Regions from separate parts of the Homo sapiens genome. Here region 2 is linked to region 1. The links come from fine-mapping of genetic effects on gene expression. A gene starts in region 1. The other region holds a variant in brackets. All regions are shown on one strand. Distances are between the middles of the regions.

Region 1 (8,920 bases):
TTCAGGAGTTCAAAACCAGCCTAGAGCTCATCTCTACTAAAAATTTTAAAAATTAGCCAGGCATAGTGGTACATGCCTGTAATCCCAGCTACTCAGGAGGCTGAGGCAGGAGGATTGCTTGAGCCCAGGAGTTTGAGACTGCAGTGAGCCATGATCACACCACTGCACTCCAGCCCAGGTGACAAAGCAAAGCTCTGTCTCAAAAAAAAAAAAAAAAGAAAAAGAAAAAGAAAAAGAAAAAGAATACTTATATAAATATCAGCTAAATAAAACTGAAAACATTCTTTTAATTTTTTGGTTCAAGTAAATTTGCTACTCTATAATAATCCAGAGTAATTTATTACATGGCTTCCATATACAACGTGACTTTTCTCAGACCCAAAAGTATCTGTTATTCTCTCTTCTGCTTGACCTTTTTTTGAGAACCTGTCTGCCATGTGAGGCTTTCCATGATAGGCACCCTGCCTACCTCTCCAGTGTCATGTACCACTCACTCCCTGCCCCACAACGCATGCTCCACAGTCACTAACCCACTCTGTACGTCTCCCCTTGCCCCGCACCCACTCCTGTGGGCAATCCATTAGATCTTAGGGATGAGGAGAAAGCAGCAAAGGAGACTAAGGCGGCAGTTTAAAGACATTCAATGCTGCTGACGGGAGACAGGTTTTCAAATAAGGTCCAAAGATGCTAAGAGGCTTTAAAACAAACAAACAAGCCTGGATCTAACAGACCTTTGGTAACCCTGCCAGGAGCAACTGCTGTGTAGTGCACTTTTGAGAGAATGGGAAATAAGGGACTGGAGACATGAGAAGACTGAACTCTCTTTAAAACAGTTTTGTTGCAAAGGGAGCAGAGAAATGGAGCAGTAGCTCGAAGTGGGAACTGGGATGGACAGAGGACTTTTGAGTGGCTTTTTTCTTTTTTTTCTTTTTTTTTTTTTTTTTTTTGAGACAGAGTCTTGCTCTGTTGCCCAGGCTGGAGTGCAATGGCGTGATCTCGGCTCACTGCAACTTCCGCCTCCCGGGTTCAAGCGATTCTGCTGTCTCAGCCTCCTGAGTAGCTGGGATTACAGGCATGCGCCACCACGCCTGGCTAATTTTTAGTAGAGACGGGGTTTCTCCATGTTGATCAGGATGGTCTCGAACTCCTGATCTCAGGTGATCCACCTGCCTCGGCCTCCCAAAGTGCTGGAATTACAGGTGTGAGCCACTGTGCCCAGCCTTTTCCTTCTTCTTAAGAAAGGAGAAATAACAGCAAGTCTGTATACTAATGGAGATGATCCAGTAGAAAAGAAAAGACTGATGATGCAGGAGACACCTGCCGGAATGATATCCCAGAGTAGGTGAGGGGGATGGGATCAGAAACACAAGCCGAGGGCTGGCCTTATGTGAAAGCAGTGACAGCTAATCCATACAGCAGGAGGGAAGGTAGAAGATACCGAGAGAGATGCTGACAGGTGGGTAGCTTGCATGAGTTGTGTTACTAATAAAAAATCAAGACACATGGGATAAAGTGTTTGAAAGGTGGGAAAGTCCCAGAAAATCTAAGCTGATGGCCATTATACCAACATTACAACATTTGCCATCTGGGGAGTCAGGATTATACTCTGTCAGGGAAAAAAAAAACAACTTCACTTGTAATATTCACAAAAGTCATGTGCTTCACTTTTCCTGCCTTACATTCCTTTTCCACTGCTAAAGATAATTAAACAATTATTCACTGAAACTTCTATGTGGTTTGAACAACAGAAGTGGACATTTAGTCGTGTCAAACTTTAGCTGCTGTTTAAGAGCTGCAGAAAGGTTTCAGTCCTCTTTGAGATACAGAGCCTGCAGCCCAAGGTTGTTTTTAGTTTTCTTGGTCCCCTGATAATGCTAATACATCAACTGAGTAGCCTTGGCTCACTGTTACTATCTAACAAGCCCCTGAACCCAGAATGTAGTCAGCTGGCAGTTAGTAATTGAGAACCTGTTTGGTGACACGGATGACTGAATGGGGCCCTTAAGTGTTCCATCCTATTGACAGGGGTTGACACCTTGACTTGTTCAGAGAGTTGGGCCAATTTGAAAAATCCTAAATCTGTCATCAGTTTAAAGACTTTAATCCCATCTAAAGACACCAAACTTTGTTGGTATGATGCTGTTGGCTGCATTTTTTCCCCATGTAAAAATTCTTCATTTCTTTAGCCATTTCTATGATTTATTATTTTACGTCCAACAGTAGTGGCCGTCTCCAGAAAAACAGCCAGCCTTCATCTTTCAAATAAAATAGACATGTCTCTTGCTTTCTTGCCAAGGGAAATAACTGCTTCCTACAGTTTACAGTCTTCTACTCATTATTTTATTTCCCCAAGCTACTGTTTCAGATATCTTCTGCAATGACAATAAATATCCTCAAAAGGTAGGAGAAAAAAAAAAAGAGGATAACTTGCGAATAATATTACCCATTCAAGTCATAAAAAACTAAGATGTTTCAAGAATACTATATAAAAGTAAAATGTTTTACAGTGTTATATTATTAAACAGCAGCCAAGAAAAGTCTAGATACAGCCATTCTGTTTAAATGAAAATGTACACGGCATGAATTACGCATGTGCATTTAAAGAAATAAAAAGCTAACAGACCTAAACGAAGACAAAATGTAAAAATTACTCATAGATAAAATACTGCTAATTTAAGTTTGTTATCTTAAGTCAGAACAAAAATATAAAAAGGCATAGAAATAGTGACTGAATGACAACTGCGTATGTGAAGCACTGAAACAGGTTGACAAAGCATGGGATCAATCTTGAAAGAACTTACAATCAAAGGAGATGAAAAAACATGCTGATCATTGAGTAAAACTTACCACTAAAAGACATATCTTATAAAAAACTGAATTCTCTTCAAGCCTAATATAAAAAGAATAAAGGAAAACGGCATGCCCAACTGGTAGTAGCAATTACTACTTCAAAACAAAGAATACAAACGTAGACTTCATGAGACAATCACAGTAAAGTCATTTCAATGCTTTTTTTTTTTTTTTTTTTTTTTTTTTTGAGATGGAGTCTCACTCTATCGGCAGGCTGGAGTGCAAGGGCGCGTTCTTGGCTCACTGCAACCTCCGCCTTCCGGATTCAAGCGATTCTCCTGCCTCAGCCTCCCACCAACACAGTGAAACTCCCGTTTCTATAAAAATACAAAAATTAGCTGGGTGTGGCGGCGCATGTCTGTAGTCCCAGCTACTTGGGAGGCTGAAGCAGGAGAATCGCTTGAACCCGGAAGGCGGAGGTTGCAGTGAGCCAGGAAAGCGCCCTTGCACTCCAGCCTGCCGATAGAGTGAGACTCTGTCTCAAAAACAAACAAAAAACCCCATAAATTCTAAACTGACTAGGAAACAACTATACTTCCGAAGCCTGTGACGGATCTCAGAATACCACAAAGTTCCCTGGACAGAAATTTAGCTACAAACATAGGCAGGGCGCAATGGCTCGTCTGTAATCCCAGCACTTAGGGGGCGGAGGCAGAGGATCGCCTGAGGTCAGGAGTTCGAGACCAGCCTGACCAACATAGTGAAACCCCATCTCTACTAAAAATACAAAAAATTAGCCCGGTGTGGTGGCATGCGCCTGTAATCCCAGCTACTCGGGAGGCTGAGGCAGGAGAAATTGCTTGAACCCAGGATGCGGAGGTTGCAGTGAGCTGAGATCAGGCCACCGCACTCTAGCCTGGGTGACAGAGTGAGACTCAGTCTCAAAAAAAAAAAAGTTAGCTACAGACACAGTTCTCAAGTCTGAACTTACATATTTAAGGACGCATGAAAACAATCAAGCTTATATTTTGTCAATACAAATGGCCAGAAGGATTCCCTGGCCATTGCAATTTCAAAAATTTTGGAAATATTTGCAGAGGTATTGTTAAAAACCTAAATGATTCATTTATGTAAACCAAAGAAGCGTAGTCAATTTTTTAAAACGGCATACCTTATGAAAGTGATTTTTTTAAAAAAGGTAACAATGTCTTTTGAAAACTTACTTCTCATATTAACGTCTATAGGATTTACACTGGCAGCGTGAACTTTGACAATGACTTCATTTGGATAGTGTATGATAGGCATCATCATGTTCTGAGTGAATCGAAGCACTTCATTCTTCCCATATTTATCTATCACCCAAGCAGGCATGACAGTGCTCCTAGGAGAGGTAGTACTAATCCTTCTAACTGAAGGCTTTTGGACAACTTTGCTTCTCCAGAAGCAAACCGCAGTGCATGCATTTCTTCTAAGTACACAAGTCTTCAGAAATTCCATTGTAAACACTGGTTGAACTGCGTGCTCAAATTCAAATACACTTGGACTGGATCAAACTCTCACCCCTGAATTCAGTCAAATTCTGCCAAACCACGGGCTAGTTTCAAAATTAAGCATGCAAAACGGAGCATTCGAAAATGAAGCTAATCTAATGGAGAAACTGAAAGAAGAATACGGAACTGTTATTCCGCTCTTCGCATATGAAATGCTCGAATTAACGTTCCAGTCAGTATTCTGTCCATTCTCCTCCCTCACTTTCACCCCCTCCACTTTAAAAAAAAAAGGGGGGGCGGGGCATTAAAAAGCAGGTGCGCAAACCCCCTAGATCCCTGCCCTGTCCTGGGAGCCCTCGGCGGGACAAGCAGACACCGCTCGCGATCCAACGCCAGAGAATCGAACGCTTGCCGACTGCCGCCGCGACCCTGGCCCGGAATCTCCTTGCCTGCCCGCTCTCCTTAGCCGCCGGGATGGCTTTGCGGCGCCAACCAATCGCCTACAAAGATCATTTCCTCGGGCTGCAATTCAACCAATCCAAGTACTCGGTGTTGAAGGGCTCAGTGACAATTAAAGATGGCTGCGCCCATGTAACATCACTAGCGACCGGTGACCTCTTTTTCCCCCTTGCCTGGCTCCTGTGGTGGCAGGCTGGGCACGAGGACCATGCTGGGCCGGAGCCTCCGAGAAGTGAGTGGAATTGGCCCGCTGAGGCCCCCGGGAGGGCGGAAAGTTTAACGGACTTCGTTGACAAAGAGTCCCTGGGCCTTACCACGCATCTTGGCCCACCTCGCTGCTTCCTCTAGAACTGAGTGGGGGATAAGTACCTTTCGATTCTTCGGGTGTACTCGCCGTACCCATTCAGGAGTTAGGACCTTAGCAGGGAAATCTCTGCACCGCGGATCTGTAGGGTGGTGAAGCGGCTTCTCACCATTAGACATTTGCTCTGGTGTAGGTCGGGATCCGGATGGTCTCGGAGTGGGCTTTGCCAAAGGGGGCTTGCGGGGCCACTTCAGTCTCTCTTCTGTCCCCGACACTTAGCTGCAGTTGTCGCTAAGAAGCCCGGCGAAACTGTAGTTTGCAAAATTCAAATGAGTAATTTTTGGCTTTTTTCAAAGAATTCGTTCTCTAGGATTTACCTACCACTAAGATACCAGTGATTTCCTAACCCGTGTCTCCATGTCCTGGACGTCGTGTTTGAATTCTAGACTGTATTTGTGAATGCTTTCTGGGCAGTTCTTCTAAATGTCACATAAGCACCCTCAAATTCACTTTAATCGGTGTTGAAGTAATCATTGTAACAGGACTTACCTCTCAACCCCCGTCTTAAAAAAGCTCTGGTATTTCTGAATTCTTAATAGACTCTTTTTAATGGCACAACTATTATCTCATTTGCCTTTAGATTCTTCCTCATCTTTCATATCCAATAAATCACTAAGCCCTCTTCATTCTATCTTGCAGATATGGCTGGAATCTGCCCTCTTACGTTATTTCTGCTGTTATAGCTTTAATTCGGGTCTTTTTGCTTCCTGGTTCACGTCACTCAACCTTAGAACTGTCTGCAGGCCCATTGCTATCAGAGTCACATAAAGCACCTGTTGAAACTAAAACTATGCCCCACTCTAGACTTAATTAGAGCTGTGTGGTAAGTTCGGGAGTATGGTTTAATGGAGGCTCCAGGTGATTTCTGGTAAGAAGTAGGCGCTGATGACCTAAACTGCCTTCCATCTTCCTTTTTATTCCACCCTAGAAGTTGTCGTTTTGTTTGTTTCCCAGCTGGCAGCGTGGAATTATAATTATAGATAGCTGTAATATATAATGAGAAATTGAAATCCACAGGCTTTAAATAATAGTTCTTCCCCCAAAATACATTATTATGTTATCATTTTAAATTGCGTCGAATCAAATTTGTTCTTTAAAAAATAAATATGCCCGGCGCGGTGGCTCACGCCTGTAATCCCAGCACTTTGGGAGGCCGAGGCGGGTGGATCACGAGGTCAGGAGATCGAGACCATCCTGGCTAACACGGTGAAACCCCATTTCTACTAAATATACAAAAAATTAGCCGGGCGTAGTGGCGGGCGCCTGTAGTCCCAGCTACTCGGGAGGCTGAGGCAGGAGAATGGCGTGAACCCGGGAGGCGGAGCTTGCAGTGAGCCAAGATCACGCCACTGCACTCCAGCCTGGGCGGCAGAGCAAGACTCCGTCTCAAAAAATAAATAAATAAAATAAAAATAAATAAACAGACAACACCCAAAACTTGTTTTAAAATTAAATACAACCTATAAAAATATGTTATTTCCTTTTTCTGCCTTTTCCACTGTCAATCTAAGTAACAGAAAGAGACTCTAAAGAAAATATTTATTTTGGAGTAGCAATGCAATGGGAATATGTGTAATATTGTAAACTATGTGCCTATTCAAGAAGGTTGAGGCAAGGGATGTTTTTAAAGACAGAATGAGAAGGATTACTTAAATTATTTTGAATCAGTTATCCTTGGCCACAAGGATCAGTCACAAAGGTGGCATCAGTCCAAGGTTGGATGGCCAGTTGCTGGACAGACATTCTTACAGAAGTACTCGTGTGTGTGGAAGGTTGCAATGGCCTTTGTGCAAGGTTGTGTTTTTTGCAGTCTTATGATTGTTTTTAAAAAAAAATTTTAATGGGTACATAGTAGGTGTATGTATTTATGGGGCACATGAGATATTTTGATACAGGCATACAATGCATAATAATCACATCAGAGTAAATGGTGTATCCATCACCTCAAGCATTTATCATTTCTTTGTGTTACAAACGTTCCAGTTATACTCTTTTAGTTATTTTTAAACGTACAATAAACTATTGTTGACTGTAATCACCTGCTGTGCTATCAAATACTGTATCTTATTCATTCTGTCTAACTATATTTTGTACCCATTACCCATCCCCACTTCCCACCCCTACTACTACCCTTTCAGGCCTCTAGTAACCATCATTCTACTCTACCTCCACGAGGTCAATTGTTTTCATTTTTAGCTCCCACAAATAGGTGAGAACATGGGAAGTTTGTCTTTCTGTGCCTGGCTTATTTCACTTAACATAATGCCCTCCAGTTCCATCCATGTTGTTGCAATTGACAAGCTCTCGTTCTTTTTATGGCTGAATAGTACTCCATTGTGTACATGTAGGACATTTTCTCTATCCATTCATCTGTTGGTAGATACTTAGCTTGCTTTCAAATCTTGGCTATTGTGAATAGTGCTGCAATAAACATGAGAGAGCAGATATGTCTTTGCTATGTTGATTTTCTTTCTTTTAGGTGCATATATACGTAGCAGTGGGATTGCTGGATCGTATGGTAGTTCTATTTTTATTTATTTATTTTTAATTATTTTTTTTTTAGAGATGGGGTCTCACTATGTTGGCCAGGTTGGTCTTGAATTCTTGGCTTCAAGCAATCCTCCTCCCTCAGCCTCCCAAAGTGCTAGGATTACAGGTGTGAGCCACTGTGCCCAACCAGTAGTTCTATTTTTAGGTTTTTAAGGCACCTCCATACTATTCTCCATAGTGGCTGTAGTAATTTACATTTCATCCAACTTTTCTCCATCCTCACCAGCATTCATTATTGCCTGTCTTTTGGATAGAAGCTATTTTAACTGGAGTGAGATGATATCTCATTGTAGTTTTGATTTGCAATTCTCTGATGATCAGTGATGTTGAGCACATTTTCATATACCAGTTTGCCATTTATATGTCTTTCTTTTGAGAAATGTCTATTCCAATCTTTTGCCCATTTTTAATTTGATTATTGGATTTTTTCCTGTTGAGTTGTTTGAACTCCTTATATACTTCGGTTATCAATCCCTTGTCAGCTGGAGTGTGATAGTTCTTCTTATCAGGCATTCATGCGTGAGAACCCTCTCTTCTTGACCTTCCTTGGCTCCATTTGTCAGGATTTTAACACAAGTCACTCTATTTTGATTTTGACAACTGTCATAGCTCCTTAAGTGCTACCTTTTTTAGTGCTACTTCTCTCTGGTGTCATTGAGTTAGCCATTGTGAAAAACAACTTTTGCCGCATGGGGGGAGAAAAGAACTATTTAGGAGAGCTGACCCAGGGGAAAATCCAGAGGTTGCCTTGGCATGATTGCTTTTACTTTATCACTCCTTTAACAAATACTGATTAATGCCTAGCATGCAAAATATTTGGTGGTTATTTCCCCAGCTCTAAAACTACCTTCTGTCTACTTTGTATTTTTTCCACATCACTGTACTGTTGCCCTAAATTCTACCAATTAGAGATTAATTAATTCATACAAATTATCTTTTAATTTAATTCTCTTTTAAATATGTACAGATGCCTGGGAAGGTTGAACAATTTTTCCACCCATTGTTGTAAATTATAACAGTTCAAATTTCTTCATAATACCTTAATTGAGATAATCAGTTGAAGAGGGGGAAATTTGCGGGGAATTAGGGAGAAGGGCTGGAAATGATGGCAGCAATTTGGGGGATGTGAGTGGAAGCTTATGGTAACAGGAGTCCTGGGAATAGGCACAAAAAGGAGGTAAAATGCCAAATAGGTAAAATTCCCATTTGTAAATTTTACCCAAGTACATTCAGAAAGGGGGAGGAAATCTCACTTTTACCTTTGTCT
Region 2 (8,000 bases), 33 kb before region 1:
CTTAAAAATTAGCAAAGACCATGTAAGCAAAATAACTTCCTCAGTGCCTATCCACATGCTGTTACTGTGTTGTATTAACATCTGGAATTAAAACAGAAGCCAACCTAAGTAACTTCTAGTGACATGGAATGTTTTCATAGATCCTTCTCAAGATTCCAACATGATTGTAAAGCCACCAAGCCATCTCAGACCTGCATAATCAACTGTCCTTGTTCCCACTCCCAGTGTGAACATTGTTCTAATACATACGGTTTTAAGGATTTCAACTGCTCTTCCACACTTCCAGATTTGTAATCAATTACATCGTCTGCACCAAGCTTCCTTACAAGTTCACTGGCATCTTGGGAGCAAACTGCTGTCACATGAGCATCCCATGCTTTCATTACCTGCCCCCCACCAAAAAGAAAAAAAGAATAAAAAAGGGAGAGATTAGAAAAACTGACTGCATTGAAAAAAAAATCATTGGCACCATGTATACATATATCAGACTAATCTCTAGAGAACTTTAAGTACGTCATCTTAACCAGAACTATAGGAAGCCATCTGTCAGAGACTAGTAAAAATGGTCAAACTTTTGTTCAGTAAGAAAATCCCAAGAAAGAGATCTCATTTTCCCTACATGAGACAGCCAGCCACCTTATTGTCATGAAGTTATAACTAATCCACTTAGAGAGGGACTCAGTGCCTCAACAGTAACAGAAAAGACAGGAGTTGAAAGCCTCAAATTTGCCAAGTGCGGTGGCTCACGCCTGTAATCCCAGCACTTTGGGAGGCCGAGACAGGTGGATCACCTGAGGTCAGGAGTTCGAGACCAGCCTGGCCAACATGGTGAAACCCCGTCTCTACTAAAAATATAAAAAATTAGCTGGACATGGTAGCGGGCGGGCACCTGTAATCCCAGCTACTTGGGTGGCCAAGGCAGGAGAATCGCTTGAACCCCGGAGGCAGAGGTTGCAGTGAGCCAAGATCGTGCCATCGCACTCCAGCCTGGGGTACAAGAGTGAGACTTCATCTCAAAAAAAAAAAAGCCTCAAATTTAGCACTTTCAAGGATAGCAAAGTTAAATGGCCCAAAAATAGTATGTCTTCAGAAAAATGACTATTTAAAATGTATACAGAACATTAAAATGCCACATATCTTCATTTGCATCTCTAATAAGTGTTAACACAATATTGAATCAGAAAGCGTGTCAAAGTAATGAGCTATTAAGTAATAGGTAACATATGAAAAGGTTCTCTTAAAAAGAAGGGGAAGAAACTATAATCATTTTTTCTTAAAAACTTGGATCAGGTCCTCTCCCTTGGAGTAAGAAAACCTAAATAAATGTTACCCAGGTTTTAAAATGCAGATGCCTTATATTTTAAAATAATAAAGAATAACTAGATTTAAATTAAAAGGAGAGCTAAATTCTAATGTTATTCAGAATTAAGTATCCAGAAAGCATTCTGCTCCAAAATTGCTAAAATTCTTTTCTATAATGTTAATTTCATAGACTTAAAAGGGGGCTATTTTCAGCTAATTTGAGAATAGCCACTTGAAGATTACTAAGAAATTTTTGTGCAGATAATTATAGATCATAAGAGATCACTTGTTTTCTCAATCTTGTCCTAAGTATCAATTTCCTGAACTTCCTTAATATAAGATATAAAGGCTCACTAGAATACAAGGGATCTGTGTTTGTCTGGTTCACTATTGAATCCCTACTCCATGGCACACAAAGGTGCTTAGTAAATTTCTGTTAAATACAAAATGTAAATAAAGGGTTTTTAACTTATTCATAATCTTACCCAATTTCTCACTTTTAAAAAGCAACATTGACCAAAGACTTATATATCCTGAAAATCTGTGGGGAATTGAAATATTTAGGAGTGATATGATATACAATTTATTGTTTATGGGCTGCAAACAGAGACACTTGAGTGTAATGATACGTTGCTTTTCACAGCAAGTCCCAAATCAAATTCAAATATGTGAAGAATATAATCCAAGATGAATAGCTCATTGTGACCATCCTTTCTCTATACCTATATTAAAAAAGAAACTATTGAGGAAAAAGAAAAGTATGTTCTAAGCACCCACATTTAATACATGTTTTTCTTTAAACAGTATTAAATCCTCAGGAAGAATCTGTCACATGTTGAAACAGGTTTTTTTCCTCAAATTTCTGGTTTTTCCCCTCAAATTTCTAGTTTTTCCTTTCCCATTTAGAGCTATTTATTATCTTTGAACATTATGAAAATGTTTTAAAAACAGTTTTACTTAATAAAAATTTTTCATGTAATATAAAACACAACTATAGAAAACACCTATAGACGGGGTGTGGTGGCTCATACCTGTAATCGCAGCACTTTGGGAGGCTGAAATGGATGGATCACTTGAGCTCAGGAGTCTGAGACCTGCCTAGGCAACGTAGTGAAACCCCGTCTCTACTAAAAATACAAAAAAGTAGCTGGGCCTGGTGATGCATGCCTGTGGTCCCAGCTACTCAGGAGGCTGAAGTGGGAGGATCGCTTGAGCCGGCGGGGGTGGAGGTTGCAGTAAGCCAAGGTCGTACCACTGCACTCCAGCCTGGGTGACAGAGTGAGATTCTGTCTCAAAAAACAAAAAACAAAAAAAGAAAGAAAGAAAGAAAACAGCTATAGGGTGAACACCACCCAGATAAAGCAGCAGCACACTGGAAGCTATGCCAAAAATTCTCCCATGTGCCCCAAACCACAGAAGCCCCTCCTACCCTTTCCCAAAATAATTATTCTGATTTTTATAGTAATCACCTCCTTGCATTTCAAAAAGTTTATCACCCAACAATGCAGTCTCTAGACACTATAGTCTTGTGCATTCTTAAAACGTGGTATCTTTTAAATCTCTTTTTTTATTATTTATTTTTGGGTTGTTTTGGTTTTTTATTTGAGACAGTCTCACTCTGTTGCCCAGGCTAGAGTGCAGTGGCATGATCTCGGCTCACTGCAACCTCCACCTCCCAGGTTCAGGTGATTCTCCTGCCCTCAGCCTCCCGAGTAGCTGGCACTACAGGCACGTCACACCACGCCTGGCTAATTTTTGTATTTTTAGTAGATATGGGATTTCACCAGGTTGGCCAGGCTGGTCTTGAACTCCTGAGCTCACGTGATCCACCCGCCTTGGCCTCCCAAAATGCTGGGATTACAGGTGTGAGCCACTGTGCCCGGCCTTAAGTCTCTTTTAAATCATAGGCTCCTGTTCTATCCCTTTGCTTTCCTATAATTTATCTATGGAAGAATCTAGGCCATTTGATCTGTGGAGTTTCCCACAGTCTGGAATTTCTAACTGCACACCCACGGGACAGTTCCACACGTCGCTCTGTCCTCTGTATTTTCTGCAACTCGGCAGATGGATCTGGAGACTAGATCTGATTCCATTTCAATCCCTTTAGCAAAACTATGGACAGTGTCTGGCAAAACTAGAGGAGGCACATCATGTCTGCTTGAGGCTCTCTTTATTATCTTAGCAGCTGTCAATGCTTAATACCCATATCTGCTTATTGGTGGTTGCGAAATAGTGATCTTCTAATTCTACTTCTTTTATTTAAGTAGTTGGAATACTTTCTTTCTTTTTTTTTTTTTTTGTGGGGGACAGTCTCGCTCTGTCCCAGGCTAGAGTGCAGTGGCGTGATCTCTGCCCACTGCAACCTCTGCCTCCTAGGTTCAAGCAATTCTCCTGCCTCAGCCTCCCGAGTAGCTG[A/G]GATTACAGGTGCCCACCACCACGCCCGGCTAATTCTTGTATTTTTATTAGAGAAGGGGTTTCGCCATGTTGGCCAGGCTGGTCTGGAACCCTTGACCTGAGGTGATCTGCCCGCCTTGGCATCCCAAAGTGCTGAGATTACAGGCATGAGCCAACGCGTCCAGCCTGAATACTTTCACAAAATAACACTGCCCCTCATATCACTGCCCCTCACATATTATTTTGTCTGCTCAATTATACAGTTAATGTAGGAAAGGCAAGACAAATGCTTAACTGTTTTTCTTTATCAGTTTATAAGATAATAAATTGGTTCCCTATCAAATTCCAAAAGTGACCTCTTTTGAAAAAAGTATCATGAACTCATGGATTTAAATATATTTAAAAGGTTTCAACCCATTGTAATGGTCATTATTATTACTGAAGCTCAAACTGTTACATCTTTGGGCATTTCTTCAAGTTAGCTCTTGAGTCTTTTGACATGACCTGACTAGTCTTTGATATCTTCCTTGCTATTTAATATACTCCAGGTTAATTCTTTATATTTGTGCTCTAGATCTGAAATCAGCTACTTCTCTAAGAAGCCCTGCCTTGTTTCAGTGAGAAATGATATTTCAAGTGATGGCTTTACATACACACATACACAAAATATCTCTTGAGTTCATATTGATACTTCCAATTCTAATTTGAGACTACAAAATCCCAGCACTTTGGGAGGCTGAGGCAGGAAGGTTGCTTGAGGCCAGGAATTTGAGACCAGCCCAGGCAACACAGCAAGACCCCATCGCTACAAAAACGTGAAAAAATTAGCTGGGCATGGTGGCATGTGCCTGTAGTTCTACCTACTCAGGAGTTTGGGGTGAGAGGATCATTGAGCCCAGGAGGTTGAGGTTGCAGTGAGCTGTGATCATGTCACTGCATCTCAGCCTGGATGACAGAGCAACACACTGTCTCAAAAATAATGACAACTATTGCACTGTATTTACCTTATCAGAACATATGGCTGTTCCTACACTCTCTCCTTCTAAGCCCTCATTTAGTTTTGTTCTACAGGTAATTGTGTTGAACATTTACCACTAGTCCTTAAAATGTCTTCATAGTCATTCCTAGTCAGAAGCTCATTATCTAGTAGATTCCTCAGAAAAGGATCAGAAGAACAATATTCCCCACGTTCTTCATGTTGATAACAGTCTGTATGTGTCCATGATACCTGAAGGCCTGTTTTGTTGTATAAAAGATTCTTGGCGCACTCTTCCTTGAGTATCTTAAATATGTTACTCCATTTTTTTCTGCCAAAAGTGTTACTGCCAAAAAGTCTCATGATAGTCTAATTTTATTTCTCTTATAAGTCACGTCATCTTTTTTCTTATATGGACACATAAGTAGCACATGTGCTATTTTGTCTAGATTTCCAAAGGATCTTATTTCTTTTTTCTTTAAAGGCCAGTAATTTCACTATAATTTTTCTCCACATTTTTATTAGTAATTTTCCTTAGTGTTGCTCAGTCTGGGTCCATGTCCTTAGAAAAGTGATGTGTCTATTCAATATGTAATTTCAAATCATTTAATTTCAGGACAGTAGGAAAGTTTCTTTAATTATTGTTTTAATATGGGTTCAATTCCCTTGCTTTGGTTTTCCCCTTCGAGGACTCCTAGTATCCATATATCAATTTTCCTTGCCTGTCATCAATATTTGATACTTTCTCTTGACTCTGTTTTTATCTTTTTCTGTTTTTTTGAGATAGGTCTCACTCTGTCCAGGCTGAAGTGCAGTGGTGTGATCACAGCTCACTGCAGCCTCGACCTCCTGGGCTCAAGTGATCCTCACACCTCAGCCTCTCCATAGCTGGGATTACAGGTATGAGCCACCATGCCCAGCTAATTTTTGTATTTTTTGTAGAGACGAGGTTTTGCCATGTTGCCCAGGCTGGTCCTGAATCGCTGAGCTCAAGCAATCTGCCCTCCTCAGCCTAGCAAAGTGCTGGGATTACAGGGTGAGCCACTGTGCCCAGCCTATCTTTTTGTTTCTTTTGTAATTTGAATTTTTTTCTGCATTTTGTTTCTTTTTTTTTTTTTTTAATTATACTTTAAGTTTTAGGGTACATGTGCACATTGTGCAGGTTAGTTACATATGTATACATGTGCCATTCTGGTGCGCTGCACCCACTAACTCGTCATCTAGCATTAGGTATATCTCCCAACGCTATCCCTCCCCGCTCCCCGCACCCCACCACAGTCCCCAGAGTGTGATATTCCCCTTCCTGTGTCCATGTGATCTCATTGTTCAATTCCCACCTATGAGTGAGAATATGCGGTGTTTGGTTTTCTGTTCTTGCGATAGTTTACTGAGAATGATGATTTCCAATTTCATCCATGTCCCTACAAAGGGCATGAACTCATCATTTTTTATGGCTGCATAGTATTCCATGGTGTATATGTGCCAAATTTTCTTAATCCAGTCTATCATTGTTGGACATTTGGGTTGGTTCCAAGTCTTTGCTATTGTGAATAATGCCGCAATAAACATACGTGTGCATGTGTCTTTATAGTAGCATGATTTATAGTCATTTGGGTATATACCCAGTAATGGGATGGCTGGGTCAAATGGTATTTCTAGCTCTAGATCCCTGAGGAATCGCCACACTGACTTCCACGATGGTTGAACTAGTTTACAGTCCCACCAACAGTGTAAAAGTGTTCCTATTTCTCCACATCTTCTCCAGCACCTGTTGTTTCCTGACTTTTTAATGATTGCCATTCTAACTGGTGTGAGATGATATCTCATAGTGGTTTTGATTTGCATTTCTCTGATGGCCAGTGATGATGAGCATTTTTTCATGTGTTTTTTGGCTGCATAAATGTCTTCTTTTGAGAAGTGTCTGTTCATGTCCTTCGCCCACTTTTTGATGGGGTTGTTTGTTTTTTCCTTGTAAATTTGTTTGAGTTCATTGTAGATTCTGGATATTAGCCCTTTGTCAGATGAGTAGGTTGCGAAAATTTTCTCCCACGTTGTAGGCTGCCTGTTCACTCTGATGGTAGTTTCTTTTGCTGTGCAGAAGCTCTTTAGTTTAATTAGATCCCATTTGTCAATTTTGTCTTTTGTTGCCATTGCTTTTGGTGTTTTGGACATGAAGTCCTTGCCCATGCCTATGTCCTGAATGGTAATGCCTAGGTTTTCTTCTAGGGTTTTTATGGTTTTAGGTCTAACGTTTAAATCTTTAATCCATCTTGAATTGATTTTTGTATAAGGTGTAAGGAAGGGATCCATGCATTTTGTTTCTATTAAGGAGCATTATGTGTTGTGTTTACTTGCTATTGAGTTCCTCTTAGTTTAGTCTTCTATTACTAAATGATTTTTTCATTTAGTTTTACTTTTTTCCTGATTTTTTCCTATTCTGATTTATTTTGTTTTTTTCACATCTTGTATTATATTTTTAATGTCTTTTAACTTGCTTTGAAATAGTAGGTGACATTTCAGGCTGTTCTGTAGGCATGTATTCTGATGTGCTTTTATTATAGGGCATGTTATTCTATACCTTATTTTCCCTTTCCTTATAATAGCTTTGTATGGGATTTAACCTTGATGCTTTTCTATTACTTTTTAATTTTATTAAAATTTTTTGTTGTAAAATATAATACAAATAAAAGCATACAGAATATAAATATACAGCTTAACAAATTATTACAAAGCAAATATTATTATAACCACTATTCAAAATTAAGAATTAGAATACCACCTGTGTCCCTAAGCCTCCCAATTAAAACCTCCTCAACTCCCTTAAAAAGTAACTACTAACTGGACCTTTAGTGTAACCCTTTTTGCTTTTTTTTTTTTTTAAGAAGTTTTACTAAGTAGACACCACCCTTAAACACCACTGCTTAGTTTCACTTGTTCTTGAATGTCATTAAATGGAACGATATAGGATGTACTTTTGCATCTGATTTCTTTTACTCAACACTCGGTTGTGGTATTCATCCACTTCACTGTGTGCAATTATAGTTTTTTCATGACTGCATAATATTCCAATGTAAGAATATACCACAATTTACTTACTCATTTTACTGTTGATGGACATTTGGGTTTTTCTAGTTGGGGAATTTTAACAGGAATAGCCCTGCTCTGAAATTCTGGTACATATCTTTTGGTAAACATACTTGTATATCTATCTATAGGTTATAATCCTAAAATAGGAATTCTTGTGCTGTCCTTTTTTTTTTTTTTAGAAATTTTACAATTTATATTGACATTTAGTAGATGCCAAATGGTTTTCTTAAGTGGCTGTATC

The links. PIP is the estimated chance that this variant, and not a neighbour inherited with it, causes the effect.
Region 2: its variant is the best candidate, but not a certain one, in a credible set for the expression of QRSL1 in prefrontal cortex (BrainSeq, PIP 0.56).

Annotation. Positions count from the first base shown.
Region 1 is chr6:106,624,735-106,633,654 of GRCh38, forward strand. QRSL1 (glutaminyl-tRNA amidotransferase subunit QRSL1) reads left to right here and starts at 4,844. Exons shown (of 11, transcript NM_018292.5): 1 at 4,844-4,971. The coding sequence starts at 4,948. It overlaps RTN4IP1 (reticulon 4 interacting protein 1), which reads right to left and starts at 4,764. Exons shown (of 9, transcript NM_032730.5): 1 at 4,014-4,764. The coding sequence starts at 4,287. RefSeq lists enhancers at 4,846-4,985, 5,016-5,075.
Region 2 is chr6:106,591,915-106,599,914 of GRCh38, forward strand. It overlaps RTN4IP1 (reticulon 4 interacting protein 1), which reads right to left. Exons shown (of 9, transcript NM_032730.5): 6 at 250-386. Among named protein-coding and RNA genes, the nearest start is that of RTN4IP1, 34 kb to the right of the region's middle. The variant A/G (reference allele first, on the strand shown) is at 3,718.